Linked DNA regions of Homo sapiens. Each later gene encodes a partner of the first gene's protein in a complex. Links are inferred from orthologs where the notes say so. Each region holds a gene or a part of one and is shown in the gene's direction. Other genes may lie near its edges.

Region 1 (8,593 bases):
ATCCTTTATCATTTCAACAATGCTTACGGCATCTTCACCAGCAGTAGATTCTATCTCAAGAAACCACTCTCTTTTCTCCTTCATAAGAAGCAACTCCTCATTCATTCAAGTTTGATCATAAAATTGCAGCGATTTAGTCAACTCTTCAGACTCTGTTTCTAACTCCAATTGTCTTGCTATTTTCACCATATTTGTAGTGATTTCCTCCACTGAAGTCTTGAACGCCCTCAAGGTCATCCATGAGAGTTGGAGTTAACTTCTTTCAAACTCCTGTTCATGCTGATACTTTTACCTCCTCTCATGAATGTTCTTAATGGCATCTAGAATCCTTTCCAGAATGTTTTTGGTTTACTTTGCTTAGATCCATCAGAGGAATCACCATCTACAGCAATTTATAACCTTATGAAATGTACTTGTTAAATATTAAAACCTGAAAGTCAAAATTATTCCTTGATCCATGGGTTGCAGAATGGATGCTGTGTTAGAAGGCATGAAAACAATATTACTCTCCTTGTACATCTCCATCAGAGCATTTCAGTGACCATGTGCATTGTCAAGGAGCAATAGTATTTTTAAATAAATCACGTTTTATCAGTAGGTCTCAACAGTGGACTTAAAATATTTAGTGAGCCATGCTAAACAGATGTGCTGTCAACCAGGTTTTGTTCTTCCACTTATAGAGCACAGCAGAGTAGATTTAGCATAATTTTTAAGGGTCCTAGGATTTTCAGAATGGTAAATGAACATCTGCTTCAACTTAAAGTCACCAGCCACATCAGCCCCTAACAAGAGAACTGCCTGTCCTTCGAAGCTTTGAAGCCAAGCATTGACTTCTATAGCTATGAAAGTCTTGGACAGCATCTTCTTCCAGTATAAGACTGTTTTGTCTACATTGAAAATCTGTTATTTAGTGTAGCCACCTTCATCAATGTTCTTGGCTAAATCTTCTCAATAACTTGCTGCAGCTTCTCCATCAGCACTTACTGCTTCACCTTTCATTTTTATGTTAGGGAGAGGGCTTCTACTCTTAAACCTCATGAATCCACCTCTGCTATCTTCAGACTTTTCTTCTACAACTTCCTCACCTCTCTCAGCCTTCATAAAAATGAAGAGAGTTAAGGCCTTGCTCTGAATTAGGCTTTGACTTAAGAGAATGCTGTGGCTGGTTTTCTATCCAGAACTCTAAAACTTTCTCCTTATCAACAATGAGGCTGTTTCACTTTCTTATCATTCCTGTGTTCACTGGAGTGGCACTTTTAACTTCCTTCAAGAGCTTTTCCTTGGCATTCACAACTTGACTGTTTTGGGTATGAGGCCTAGTTTTCGGCCTATCTCTGCTTTCAACTTGCCTTACTCAGCTTAATCATTTTTAGCTTTGATTTAAAGTGAGAGATGAATGACTCTTCCTTTCACTTGAACACTCAGAGGCCACTGTAGGGTTATTAATTGGCCTAATTTCAGTATTGCTGTGTCTCACTGAGGGACTGGCCCATCAGCGGAGCAGTCAGAATATATTCAACATTTATCAAATAAGTTTGCCATCTTAAATGGGTACAGTTTGTGGTGGCCCAAAACAATTCCAATAACAATATCAAAGATCACTGTTCACAAATTGCCATAACAAATGCAATAATAATTTAAAAGTTTGAAATATTGGGAGAATTACCAAGATGTAACACAGAGACATGAAATGAGCACATGCTATTGGAAAAATGGCTCTGATAGACTTGCTCGACAAAAAGCTGTCACAAACCATCATTTTGTTAAAAAAAAAAAACAATATTTGCAAAGCACAATAAATGAAGGTATGCCTGTATACTACATATTTATTTTTAATAATCATATAAGAAAATTAATTGGATATAAAATAGGCTGTTCTAAAACAGCAAGAGGGAAATAAACTTTAACAATGCTGACAGCAGCCATGGCATACTTGAATTTTTAGGACTCTTGTTAAATATGGGTATGGGAACTTACCCTCTGCACTAGTATCCAGACACTTACTAGATTATGGCCCATTGGGGTATTTGCCTCTATTACATATATTTGCTAGACTGTCATTATACCTTGCAATCTAGTGTCTTTTTCTAGGTTGATATTGTCACGTTTAATCTATTATGGCAATGATATTACTCTTGCTATGTTAAATGTTTTTATCAGACTTCCTTGTAGCCCCAACCAATCTGAGAAGATTGAAAATCAAGGAATCCTTCACTCCTTTTGTAAACTTGGTAAAATGGAATCAATGTTTACTAGATCTGCTGTTCTTGTGAAGATTTCTCTGTTCTTCTTCATCAAGATTTGCCAATCTTCCTCTGCACTCTTGCCTTCTGCAGTCTTTCCTCTTCCATAAAAATATCGCTTATAATATTCTTTTTTTGAAATGAAGTCTCACTCTGTCTCCCAGGCTAGAGTGCAGTGCCATGATCTCGGCTCACTGCAGCCTCTGCCTCCCAGCTTTCCAGTGATTCTCCTTCTTCAGCCTCCCAAGTAACTGGGATTAGAGGTGCCTGCCACCATGCCCAGCTAATTTTTTGTATTTTTAGTAGAGATGGGTTTCACCATGTTGACCAGGCTGGTCTTGAACTCCTAACTCCTAATCTCAGGTGATCCACCCACCTTGGTCTCCCAAAGTACTGGGATTACAGGCATGAGCCTGTATGCCACCATGCTCAACTTCCTTATAATATTCTTCTAGTCTTATTTCCCAACTGCTGGCTTTTATATTTTGAATTGTCAATAGAAAGCCCTGCCTATCGTGATGAGGTTAAGGACACATGTTTTGCTGAGAGAAGTAACTTCCAGCTGAGAATCTTGTTTAGCAGGAGAGAAAATCCTCTATTTTAGAGCCTCTCCTGGAGCTTAGAGTAAGCATTGGCTTTTAGAGGTGTTTTCTCCCTTTTTGATGTCTGGAAGCACTATTTTCAAGTCTGTTAGAGACCCACTTTAAATAAGTACAGGTGCTAATGCTCTGAGTGCAAGTCTGTAAGGGTTAGTGAGTCCTCAAATCACAGAAGTCTCCTGACCAATGCTGGGATGTTCTACTGTTCTCCAAGAATCTGCAGCTTAAAAGTATTAAACTAAATACAGCAGACACCCTCAGCATAGCAGTGAACCACAATGGCAGCTGACAAGCAGGAACATTTAATGGATTGGTCAGCAAGACCACACTTATATCTTGTTTAAAATGTGTCCTTTCCTTTGGGAGACTGAGGCAGGCAGATCTCTTGAGGTCAGGAGTTCAAAACTAGCCTAGTCAACATGGAGTTTTCTAAAAGTACAAACAAATTAGCCAGGTGTGGTGGCAGGTGGCTGTAATCCCAGCTACTTGGGAGGCTGAGGCAGGAGAATTGCTGGAACCCAGGAGGCTGAGGTTGCAGTGAGCAAAGATTGCACCACTGTGCTCCAACCTGGGCAAAAGAGCAAGACTCCATCTCAAATAAATACATAAAATAAAATGCATCGTTTCTCTCAACAGCAAAAGCCTTATTTTTTCATCCTTTAAATATGTTACTTTCATAGTAGGATAAGATGGTACCTTGTCTGAGAGGCTAAGACCCCCAGGCCACTTGAGAATTTGAGAGCTTTTAGAACTTGATGAGCATAGCTGACTGGATACTTCGTGTCAGCACTGCTTGTGGTAATTACAGGATCTGTGGATCACAAGGCTCACAACTTGTATCACAAGTTCTACAAGAAAATTGGCTAACACATATTTGGCTCTGTTAATCATTTGCTGAGTTTATATCTTGTCCCACCAAATGTATTTTTTGAAATGCCATTACATGAAAAAGTTTCACTATTCCAATTATCTGTGTTTACCAACTTGTGGAGTAAGAGTGGCTGACTGAATATGTGCTTTTTAACTACACTATTATATACATTGGCCAAGCTTTTTATATTAACCCTACCCATGAAGTATCACCAATATTTCCCCCAGTGTGAAATTGACATTTGTCAAAAGCCTTTTGCCATATAAAAGTTTTTAGTTCTTATATATGAAATCTGTCCCTTTTTTTCGACATGAGTTCCCCAGCCTGCTTAGCTTTGCCCCTACCACCCAAGATTTTTAAGCTTTCTATATTTTCTTAGAATTTAAGATTTTAAAGTCTTTACTTTTTTAAATCATTTATTTGTAAAGGGACATATTTCTCAAGTGTGCTAGTTTTCCTTGATTTTAATGGATTAAAATGTGTCGTAGGTGAGCCATTTTCTTCCAAATGACGAAGAGTTTTTGTTCCTTTGAAAGTCTGGCCCAGGATTTTGTTTGTTTTTGTTTTTTTAAAGTTCTTATTTTACTTACAGAGTTAAGAAAGTTGAATAACTATACAACCAGTCTCTAAATAGAAGTTCTAATAAATCCTAAGATGTTGCAGGGCACTGAAAGAGGACAAAATTTGATCCCTAAAGCCCTCTCCAATCTCATACTCGGTGAAAATAACAAACAAAAGGCTTCAGTGTTAGTGGAAAACTGAGTTCTTAAAAAGCAGGTAAAGGTCCTGTTTGGTCCTTCTCCAGAGCTGAGGAGAAAGGGTTTTCAGATTATAAATAACAGAGGTGCCCTTGTATGGCACAGAATTGCGATAAGACTTTACTTCTTAGGGGCTTAAATAATGAAGTCAGTAAAAGAGGACTGAAAACGAACATAAAGAAGAGCTTTAGCTTTGACGCAAAGAATTACATCAGTGCTTGACAAAACCGAGGATTCTTAATTTCTAAAAACGCTTTCTTTAAGCACTTCCTAACCTTTCATTATCTGAGACAACATATCAAGTGAGCAGCAGTACAAAGGATGCATGTGATTTCGAAATGCCACAATTGAGCCAACTGCAGTTGCACGCGTACGTAGTATAGAGAGGTGTGATCAAAAAAAGAATATAGGGAGCATAGGGCTTCGTCTGCATCAAAAGATACTCTCCCCATCTTCTATAGCCTTAAGTTTTGCGAAGGTAAGTTTCTCCCCGCTTGAAAGCGCCCCCAGGGACAAGAATTCATCTTGACCAAGCCTAAGGCCGTGGCATGCAAGGTGTTGAGTCACCGGGTACAGCGGTCTTGCGACATAAATATTATTTGATGACGAAGGTACTCGGGGCCCAGGTGCCAAGGTAAACCACTGGCAAAGATGACCGTGGTTAAGGCAGTAGAAAGCAGGCTCGACACTGAGACGCGGTTCCAGCCCTAGAAGGATTGCATTTTACGATTCAGGCAAACTTCGAGTCTCCTCATGTGACATGTGTGCACTCCTGGACCGTTTTAATTATGAGAAACGTGGTTTGCAGCATGATTCCTTCCAGTCGATAAATCGGAATCTCTCTCGCTCCCACCCCTTCTTAACTTCAGGCTTCCTGCATCCCGGAGCACTCCCGGCAGCCCCTTCCCTCCCCCGCCCCGGGGATGCTCCGACTCGGCGCTTAGCCATTCATCAACCGGTTCACACCGGCGGCGGCCGCCGCGGAGTGACGTCCGGAGGGGGCGGGCCTCCGCCCCCGCCTGTCGGCTCCTGGCCCGCGGTTCCAGGCCGCGATTGGTGGCTGGAGGGTTGCACGTCGCGCCGGCTATAAAGGGGAGGGCTTGTGACGCAAGGGCGCCTCGGCGCGTGTATTGGCTCCTTCGGCTGCGGGCCGGCTCGGCTACGCGCTCTGCTCCGAGCCGCTCACTGCATGGTAGAGTCTGGTGCCCCCGCCGCCGCCTGCATCGCCGCCACCGCCGCTCCGCCACGACCACCGCCGCCTCCTGCCCTGCAGCCACCGCCACCGCCTGTGTCGCCGCCGCCTCGGGACCGGCTGTATGATTAGGCCACAATCTTCAATGAGTAAACATATTCCTGTGAGTAGCCGTCGCATCGTCGCCTCTCGGGCTGGGAATCCACGACCGGCCCCCCATCCCCGCTGTCGCCTTTGTTCGGAGCCCGGCGTCTCCTCCAGGTTGCCCCGGGTTGCGGTTCCGGTGGGTCCCGGGTGGGAGCGGGCGGGTTATGGCCCTGTGGCCGGCCGATTGCGGCCGGCTGTGCGGAGGCAGATGCCGGGCCCCTCGGGGCTGCGGGGTGGCGGTTGGCCGCCGGAGGCACCGGCTTTTGAGTCCCTCCCGAGCCCGGAGCGACGGGGGCGGCGCGGTCCGGCTTCTGCGGCGGCCGGGGGCAGTTTCGGCTTCCGCAGCGGGCCGGGTGGGTGGCACAAAAGCCGCTTTGTGACCGCCGCCTCCGCCCTTGGCCCTTTGGTCTGGCGCGACCCGTCCGGGCATGGCAGGCTCCGCGGCGTCCCGGGGCCTCTTTGTTCGGCCGGAGGAGAGTGGCTGCACTGGGAGCGGGAGACGTGGCCCGGGGTGGGGCGAGGGCTGCGCGTGTCACTGCGGAGCCGGATACGGGGAGGGCGCGGCGGTGGCGGGTTCGCCTCCAGATCCGGGCGGGCGTGGGGTAGGCCGGACAGCCAGGCACGGGTGGTAACGATCTGGTTCCAGAGCTTCTCGGAGCTCCGGGGTGGGCGCGGGACAGCCACTGGGTGCAGCTACACTCTTGTGCTCGACGGCCGGGACCCGAGCCTCAGACAAAATGGCCTCGGCGCCCGCGCCTGACTGAAGGCGCGGCGCGAACCCGTGATTGCGGCGCGGAGAGGGGGCGCAGCGGGCGTGCTCGGGCGCACACAGCCGCGTGCGCGGGGCGGCGGCCCTCTGGGGCATTCCGCGAGCTGCACCCCTGCCCGGGCCAGAGTGGGGTTCTGCTAGGTGAGAACTTCGGCCGTCCGCCCCGCCCTCCTCCCAGGCTCCACCTGGTAATTCGAGCTGTTCCGGATTTATCGCCCCACCTCGGGCTCGTGATAATGGGAACAAGTCTAGTCTTGTCCTTTCTCTGGGCCAGTCGTCGAGAAATGGCCTGGTTCGGAGCGTCTTGGAAACTGACAGGGCTACTGTTAGTTACACTGACGCGAAGGACTTCCCGTCCGGGCACCAGCATACATTTCCCCTGCCAATTTTGGAAGGGCCCTGGATGGCGCCTTTTAATCGGGGACTGTTTAGAACTATCCCTGAGCTCTGTGGTGTAATATGTTGTTGCCTCCTGTTGGTTTGTGGCAGCAGTAGCCAACCAGAGACGGAATTCTGAGGGTTTTTTATCTTCTGTCCGCGGAGCCCCCTACCAGTCCACGAGTATTAAGTTATTTACACTACGATTGGAACTGTTGACCTGCCCGACATCTAGATCCTGAGGCAGTGCTTCCTGTTACTCAGTCAGTTGAAAACTAGAAAACTAAATCATTCCCAAGAGTGAGCAGCATTTTACACATGCTTTCTTAGGTGCCCTAAGACCTAAATAGATGTGGAACAGACTATACAACGAATTGTTTGTGACAAAGGAGTTACACACATTAATTGGCTTGACTCTGCAGTATAATAATGATTTAAGCTTCTGCACAGAGATTACTCTTTCCTCCTCTCCCTTCTTGTATATGATTGTGATTATAATGCAACTGATAGGTGGGAGGGAAAAAATCCCCATTATGGATAGTTTTTCCTGTGGGTAGGAGATTGGGAATGGAGGAGTGTCTTGGGCGGAACAGAAATCTATCGGTGGCCACCACTGCTTTAACAGACGAGTCCCCCCATCCACTAGGTGGCTCCACTCAGTAAAAATAACCATTTCAGGAAGGGAATTCTTAATATAGTTCTTTCTCTGCTTCCTGATGAAAGTGCTTACTTACATGAAGGGATATGGCCAGACTAGGTTGTAGCCGACAGGAGTTTTAGCTATTAAATATGGAAATAGTGGTGTGAAATACTGCCTCAAATTAGCTTTTAATTGAAAAAAAGGTAATACCTAGAAATTAGAATACTGTGATGAGTCATTATAAAGCTTTTAAAGATCATTGTATGTCATTGGGAAAGTGTCAGAATACACTTTTTATTCTACGGAGGTTGTATTTAGAATTTGGGGTGAAAGTATAATGAAATTATTTTCAGATTACTACAATCTGTATTCACTGTAACTGTGATGGCTTTGTAATTTAGACACTTAATTTTTTAACCCAGCTGACCAACTAGGTGAAGTAACCTCTGAGGGCTTGTTTGAACAAACTTGTGATAATGAAAGTTACCTTTTTTATGGGACCTTTTGATAAATGATTGTTAATGCTAGTTGTATGTTTTACCAGAAAAGTAGACTGGGTTTTTGACTTGATGTTTTCTGCAGTAATCATCATAAGAATTATTCTTCAAAATTTAGCAAAGTTCTAGAAACTATAACTAGCATGGGACTATTTAAAGGTGTAAAATGGAAATGGGAGCAGATCGTTTGAATTTTAATTTTAAGACTTCAAATGCTTAAATTTAAGCATGGAAACTAATGGAACCTTTTGTTAAAACACTTTGGTAATGAGAGTACACATGAAGTGCTTGAGGCAGTGACTATGAATTACTGCTCTTGTTAACCTGTTATTAATACTTTCCTTAGTGCCCTCTTTACTCCCGAGTACACAAGTACCTTATAAACTATTTGGAAGAAGACTGATTATTAACATCAGTGTCTTCCATGTACATATTTTAAAAATATGCTGTGACTATTGGTTTAATGTTTGATATTGGCATAAAAATGGTTTAGTTCTTA
Region 2 (7,593 bases), on another chromosome or scaffold:
GTGAACAAATGAGAAGAATGGGAGCATTGTCTTGCCTCGCTTGGAAGGACGCCTTCCGGCATCTGATCCACATGGATTCACTTTTAGGATGCAGTTCTTTGGGGGCCAGATTTGGCTGCAGATTCACCCTGAAGAGAACTATCCAATGGGCCTGGTGGGGCTTGGGTGCCTGCCTTTTTTGTTGGAGGCTCAGACTTCTAGAGCAGAGCAAAGTTGGGAAGAATGAGGTCTTAGGATTCTCATTCCCCAGAGAGCCCCAGCCTCGCTTCTGATCATTACTCCCCAAGTCTGAATCTACTGTGAAGGTGAAGTTATCAATTTTTTCTTGTTTGAGTCCTTTAAACCCACAAATGTATATGCTTTATTTTATATTATTTATTATGTACATATGCCTGTTAGTACTTCGTCTGTGACTAGGACAAGGTCTGTCTTGAAGCTTCCTCATCCATGGATCCTAGGGTTCTGCTGTCCTTTAAGGCGGGTGAGAGGGTAGTGTTGTTTTTTATAAACAGGTTGCTGCTTTTATGTTGGCCCTAGCATCCCCAGCCCCTTTAGTTGGGCCCACCTGTATTCCTTATGACCAGTGTTTTGGATGAGGATGGAGGCAGGTCTCCTACCTTGTGGGCAGGGCCTCTCAAGTACCTCCATGAAATATTTCCAAGGTGGTTTCTTGGTGACAGGCTCTCTTCCCCTATGTAGGGTACAGTACAGCTGTGAGTCCACGGCCTCCCTCCTCCCAAGGCAGGTCACTTGCCTGGCCCCACAGTGATAATGGTTTCTTCCACTTACCTTAGATTGCATAATCCATCTTTCTGGATAATGGAAGCTGCCTGCCTATCTGGGCTCTTAATATGCCTTTTCTTGGTTTTGAGGCCCAGTGCCAACATTGCCTTGGCCCTCAAGTAAGACCCTGCTTTGTGTCTGACTTTGATCCTCCTCAGCCTTTATTCACTGTATCATAGTGTACAGGTCATGCATTTGAGCAGTGAAGTTTTCTGAACACAGTATTCAGAGCTGTGTACATAAACCTAAATAAGCACAAATGACATGTATAGGATTGAGCTGATTGTCTTAATGAATGCATTTTATAATTCAAATGATGTAGATGTACAGTCTCTCCTATTTATTTTGTACCAATTTATTTGTAAATTTTGTGATTGTTTTACAAGGTTTTTGTTTATTTCTATTCTATTTAGATAAATGATGTTCTGTTCACCCTGCTAGCAGATGTGTGTTCCCTCTTCCCTTTCATCTGTGCAACACCAACCATGCCATTGTATTCAGCTTGGCTGAACCAACTGCCCTACCCACTTGCCTGGCTTTGCTGGTGGGAAAGCTGGGACTGGATCTCAGCATGACAACATAGAAGAGCATCTTCTTTGGACAGTGTAAAGTCTTAAGAGAAGTGGGTACTAGTTCTGTGCCTCCAAGTCACAGCCTGGTACAGCCAATCCTAGGGGGAAGGTGTCCTTCTTTGCAAGGATTATAATCTGTTCTCCATCAGTTACTCTCTACATAAGAACATTCGGAGTATCCAGTCAAATTGCCCCAGACATTGGCTGCTCAGTCACTAATAACAACACACAGTGCCGCTGGGCTAAGCCGGCATTTCCTAGGTAAGACCAAAGGTCTCATTCAGGCCTCTCAATTGGCTCTTGAAAACAAGGATGGCTTTATAGGTCCTCCTCTGCTATGCTAAGCCTGGGAGGAAGGTCGGAGCAGGCATGGATAGTCACTTTCAAGTGGAAAACATCCGGCCTGAGTGTGGCGAGGCGTGTGCAGGTGGGTCTTCAGGATTCAGTGGATATCCTGCATTCCCCAGTAATCGGTGTGTATGATACACGTTCTTTTCCATCACTACTTTGTCTTCTGTTCCTTCTTACCCTCATCACTCACATGAGACCAGTCCCTGAAGAACTTACGGTGGAGCTTCAGGGACCCTCTGTGATCCATTCCTAAACCACATCTTTTTGGAATCCCTTTTCTCTCCACTTTTAGTCTCTATTTTACATTCCAAAGAGGATCGTGCTCTGAAAATTTAGCCTCTTGACTGGTCCATTTATAGTCTCCACTGAATTTATTTAACCGTGGCATTTGCAGTCTTTTACTTACACTTGTTCTGTGGATGGAGACATTTCAGGGAAGAACTGCTGACAGAATTGGCTTTCAGACACTGCCTGACCTAACTACCGCTCCCATCTCCCCAGGTATCGCCCAACTACCTGAAAGTAGAATGAGGTGTATCTTAGCCCAGTGAAATGCTGTCTTCGAACCCTGCTTGCTTTCATTAGAAGCAGGGCAGAAAGTGGCAGCAGAGCTAGGGAAAGAAATCATGGTAGCACATTCACTCCCAGCCTCCTGCCTTGGTTTGTTTTTCCTGTTTTACTCACTTGGTCTAGATGAGCCCTTAGCTCAAATCAGGAAATGCTCCAAGGAAAATGGAGGCAATTTTTCCTGCTGTCAAGATGAGATTTGCCTAAAACTCCCCCCTGCATCCTCAGAGTGCGCACACATCCGCTCATTTCTAAGCTTTATCGTGATGCACCCGGGGTTTCTATTTCACAAAAATTGTGCTCCCTAGAGCCGTTTTTCAACTCGGCACTTCTGAGGAAACAAATATTGATCAGAGGGTCTTGTAGAGAAAGTGGTTAAAAACTGACCTTTTTATAGCCTGGAGTTGATTTCTGGAAACTTATTTTATACTTTTTGAAGGTAATTTAAAAGAGATGATTCTTTATTAAAGCCAAAAAGTTGAATTCTATTAGGTGGATAATAAACTCTTTTGCTTTCTTTGTATGGTGGTTTTGTCATTTTCCCTCCAAGGGCCTCATATCTGTGCTCTTATTTTCAAGCAGTCCCAGGACAAAGGGATGGTTCTAGGGCCCTTTTCTCTGACTTTCTGCTGGCATGCCATCTCCCCTAGTGGATTACTGAGGACTGAGGATGCACGTTTCTAAGGGAGAATTAGTTGCCCGACTTCTGAAGTGCTTTTCCTGTCAGGGTATTAGTGACTGTGCAGTGTTCAAACAGGAGGCCAACACATGATAGGAAATTTTAGATGGGGCCAGTTTTCCTACTGCAGTTCTACTAAGTCATTGACTTGAGGTCAGTGGGTCCAAAAAGTGACTTGTTTAAAGATACCCACACACTCAAGTCAAAGATAACTCTGGTGAGAACACTCTCTCAAAGACTGGACACTGAGTAAACATTTTTCAGTGTGGGGAAGGTTTGCTTGGCAAATCTTCTTTCCAAGTATCTCAAGAACTTGTGAGACGTGGAAGGACTATTGCTGCCTTTCGTGGGAAAAATGTGTGCTCAGCTGCTTGGGCTCCAGTTTGTGTGGGAAGGTTTATCTCAGGCCTTGTCTACTCCCCTCGCCAGACATGGCTTTGGGAAGAGCTCCATGGGAGACCAGAACATCTGGGGACATAGTTGTACCTAGTTATTTTGTGTGAAGAAACAAAGGGACGAGATTCAAAATTCATCATTGTGTTTTAAATTTAAATTGGAAAACATAGATTCCTCATCCTTAAACAGAGTCAGCAAGTTTGAGATGAAATGTTTGTGTTCAATGGGGAGTACTTTTTTGTGTTAAAGCTCTACAGAGAAACTTCTGTATATATTTTATTTTTGAGATCACATACCTTTGTTGGAATGAATCAGACTGTTGTGGCCTTGGGATGAAGACATTGTGTGTGAGGACAGGGAAAAATGGTTGAGAAATCCAGGTTAAAGAATAGAAAAGCTTTTTACTCATTCTATAAATGAACATGCTGCCTGTTTAAAGGACTTGCTTTCTGCTGTTTCTAGATACCTAGCAGCGCGAGAACTGTGTGACGTGCTGCGTTCTTGTTACGGGAGGTGCGTGACGGGGCAGCGGGGGTTTCTGGAAGTCACCTGTTTCTGCTTTCTGGTTGCCTGTGCCTGTGGTCATCCCTGCTCCTTAGCAGTAGTGCATGTTTTTCTTCTATCTGCAGGGTTGCTCTGGTAGCTCCATGGTAGAGATTTCACTCTCAGGGCCTCCCAAAAGTTGTGTATCATTTGAAATTGTTCTATTTGAGGAAAAACTTTTAAGAAAAGCTGGATTCCCTGATCACCACTAAAGATCATCATGAGAAACATAAGTATTTGAGCCCTAAACTACTAAGCCCAGTGAGGAATTGGAGCGTTAACTGTATGGCAATAGCTAGATCATAGTTACCATTTTTCCCACCATCAAAGACAGATTAAATAGTTTCCATAACATGGAATGTGGGTAAGGTTCCTACCCTAATACAGACTTAAATATGTAGTTGTCTCAGGCTATTCGTGGTGAATAAGCAGAGTATTTATTTTAAAATGACCAGGCAGCCTTGGAAAAATTGCTGGGCTTTAAAGTTGTTGACAAAGTATTTCTTAAATAAATACATCTGATTTAGAAATACCTAAACATGGACAAAATACTTCTAAATCTGACATGCAACTGCATGTGGCTTTTTAAAGTGGTTTCTTAACAATGCTAATGTGACTTAAGGATTTGTAGTTCTATTAAAAACGACTTCTAAAAGTATCTTAGGGTAGCTTGAAGGGTTTGCGTTATTATTTTAGGTCTCAGCAGAGGTATGCTTATGGCAAGAGAAAAATCTTAGGTCTAAATAGAACCCTAAACTTTCTTGGCTGTGACCAACTTTTCTGAAGTACACCATCAGAGTTTTCACTGACTATCTATCTTTGCAGAGATGAATGAATGTACTGGGCAATTCCTCTGCCCAAGGAAACCCAGCAGGGCCTGGGTCTGCTGTACCACTGACCAACTGCTGGGGAGGCTAGGGGACCTGTCAGTACATGCTGTAAGGTTGGGAGTTCAGTCTAGCAACCAAGAAGGGGTTGCCTGGTGTTCTACAATGCCTATAGTGTTTTCAAAATGCCTGGGAAAAAATTCTCAAAAGAAGTGGCAGAATGGTCTTCTCACGGTATAAAACTCCGCAGGATTTTTTTTTTTTTTTTTTTTTTTTTTTTTTTTAAGGAAAAAAGTATACCTTTTAAGTTCAGCTTCCTTAACTACTGGCAACAGAGAGAAAACTCATAATTTGTTTTAAAAAGCCCAGTTACAGCTGCCCTGCCTACCCATGGACCATTGACTTCCCAGCACACTCTTAAGAATAATATACAGAGAGGCACCATTTTGCTCTGGGTCTTATGGAATCCTAGAGCTCTTGAATACGTTTTGGTGGTCCTACGGAGAGCTGTAACTAGCAGTGGAGTTGTTGCTTATTCCAGCTGTGTGCTTTTCACTTTCCGATCTTTGGACCCAGAGAATCATTTGCCATGGAATCATCTGGCTAGTAAGACACTCTTATATGGATGCAATACAAAAAGTGGTAAATTAAAGCAAAGCAATCATGTGGTCCTTACTCTAAAAGAGACAATATGTAAATGTACTATTATAATAAGGTAGCTCTGCAGATGTAATAAGCTACTCATAAATTATTTGGGTTTAAGAAAACTTAAGACTATGTTAAACTGGACAACATCTCCATCTTGAGTGAGAGTAATTAGTAACTAGGATGACCACACATTCTCCTAACACGGGCAACAGTCTAGTCTAATTGTTATTGCATTTCTGACCTGATTCTTTTAAAGGGGCATATATTCCCAATATATACCATTTAGAATGTATGTATGTTTCTTGGATGACTTAATCTGAAGCCATATAAGTCCAAAGTAGTGAGACAGACAGTATATCCTTGACTAAGTTATCAGGCTGTGTTCTCTGCTTATAAAATAATTTTTTAAAAAGCCTCACTTCACAGTCCTGTTCCAAAAATCTTTCTGTGAAAAAATTGAGGCCTATGTAACACCATGAATATAATCATGTTAGAACATAATCAGTTCTTGAATATTTATTTCCTTTAAGAGAATATCAAACTGATGTCACCAAATCTAAACCCACTTGAAGACCAATAGCTATTACAGTTGTACTACAGAATAGGTCAAAGTCACCGTTAGAAATATTACACTTTATTGAATTCTGGAGCAGCTAATCTACCCTCCCCTATTGACCAATGACAAGAATGGAAGAAAATATACAATGGTTAAAGAAAGAGTCTATAACCACTGTTTGTTTAAAATGTTGAAACAACTTTCACTGTACTGGTGAAACAGTTTTAATACCCTAACATACACAGTAATGATTCATTCTTGTTTAAAACAAGAGGTGATTTCGACTTGGGATTGGGATTTTTATTTTTTGAGATGGAGTTTTGTTCTTGTTGCCCAGGCTGGAGTGCAATGGCACAATCCTGGCTCACTGCAACCTCCGCCTCCTGGGTTCAAGCAATTCTCCTGCCTCAGCCTCCTGAGTAGATGATGGGATTACAGGCATGCACCACCACGCCCAGGTAATTTTGTATTTTTAGTAGAGATGGGGTTTCTCCATGTTGGTAAGGCTGGTCTCGAACTCCCGACCTCAGGTGATCCGCCTGTCTCGGCCTCCCAAAGTGCTGGGATTACAGGCGTGAGCCGCCGTGCCTGGCCTTGACTTGAGATTCTGAAGTGAATTTATTCACACTGATTGTGCCCTCTACTTTAGTAAGGTTCTGGCTTACAGAGCCCTCTTCCCATCCTCTGATGTTCAATTTTAATATACAGCAATCAACTCTTAGAGGACAAAGAAATCTGGAATTGGGTAGCATGAGCCACAGCTATATAGCCCACACTAATGCATGTTCTGTAGTATAAGAAGGCAGTTCTTCCCTTTCTTTTCTGGGGGCTTGTTCCTTTGTCCACTTGCAGCTAAATTCTTTCTATAGATTTATCACAGATAAGAAGGAGGTTGTTTTTGGATAACAAATAAGCATTTGTGCTATTAAACAAACAAAAGGTAATAAGGATACTGTCTTTTCCCTCAAAATAGAATCCTGCCCTAAAGCAACGCAAGTAGAGCATACTTCTGTGCAAAGCCAGTGATAGAGAAGCAGCCTTGCCAGAGTCACTGAGGATGAATTAAAGGCTTATAAAAGAAAACTTGACCTTAACAGAGACTACATTTGATCATGGAAATAATACATTTCTCCACTGATATACAATACCATGTAATGCACTGGAAAAGTTGGACCTTGGAGTAATAGCACAATTTGTAACATTACAGATCACCTCTTCCCACTCTTTGTTCCACTCTGAGACTCTTTCCTTTTCCTCGTGTATCCAGATACACTGACATACGGATGATTTTAAAAGTGTCACAAGCCACAGTGGAGCCATATACATGCAGTTCAGCCTGATTTTACCCTTATTTTCTTCTAATACAGACTCCATTACAATTTTGGACCATCTGCAGAGAGTACAGATACACAAAACCAAAACAAGTATCTATGATAATAAAATCTTCAGAAACTTTTCAGACGTACCTTTCATGGAGCCCCCTCCCTCCCCCGAGTAGAACCCTAACAGGGACCTCGTTTGTTCCTGTGAGTCCTGCCAGGACTTGTTTAATGGGTGCTTGGGGTTTTGGTTTTCCTCCTTATTCTTCCTCCTCCTCCTCCTCTTCATCATCATCTTCGTCATGGCAGTGTGTAATTTCCTGGGGGGCCAGTGGGAAGAGGTTGGGAGGTT

Evidence for each region. The genes of interacting proteins can lie anywhere in the genome.
Region 2: the proteins of PTP4A1 (region 1) and CNNM2 are in contact, whole or in part, in a crystal structure (PDB 5MMZ), measured with the Mus musculus proteins. The link is inferred for Homo sapiens from one-to-one orthologs. Residues at the interface, in NP_035330.1 of Mus musculus: Asp72, Gly73, Ala74, Gly107, Leu108, Gly109, Arg110, Arg137, Arg138, Gly139, Ala140, Phe141, Asn142, Lys144, Gln145; in NP_291047.2 of Mus musculus: Phe526, Asp528, Val551, Asn553, Glu556, Gly557, Asp558, Pro559, Phe560, Tyr561.

Annotation. Positions count from the first base shown.
Region 1 is NC_000006.12:63,566,894-63,575,486, forward strand, and holds the start of PTP4A1 (protein tyrosine phosphatase type IVA 1), read left to right. Parts: upstream 1-5,586; 5' UTR 5,587-5,787; coding exon of another isoform or gene 5,788-6,537; exon of another isoform or gene 6,538-6,638; coding exon of another isoform or gene 6,639-6,675; exon of another isoform or gene 6,676-6,714; intron 6,715-8,593. Other genes in the region: uncharacterized LOC128125822, read left to right, coding at 5,788-5,826; translation initiation factor IF-2-like, read right to left, coding at 5,792-6,537, 6,639-6,675. UniProt on the Homo sapiens protein: Protein tyrosine phosphatase which stimulates progression from G1 into S phase during mitosis. May play a role in the development and maintenance of differentiating epithelial tissues.
Region 2 is NC_000010.11:103,082,171-103,089,763, forward strand, and holds part of CNNM2 (metal transporter CNNM2), read left to right. Parts: 3' UTR 1-7,501; coding exon of another isoform or gene 7,502-7,593. Other genes in the region: NT5C2 (cytosolic purine 5'-nucleotidase), read right to left, coding at 7,502-7,593.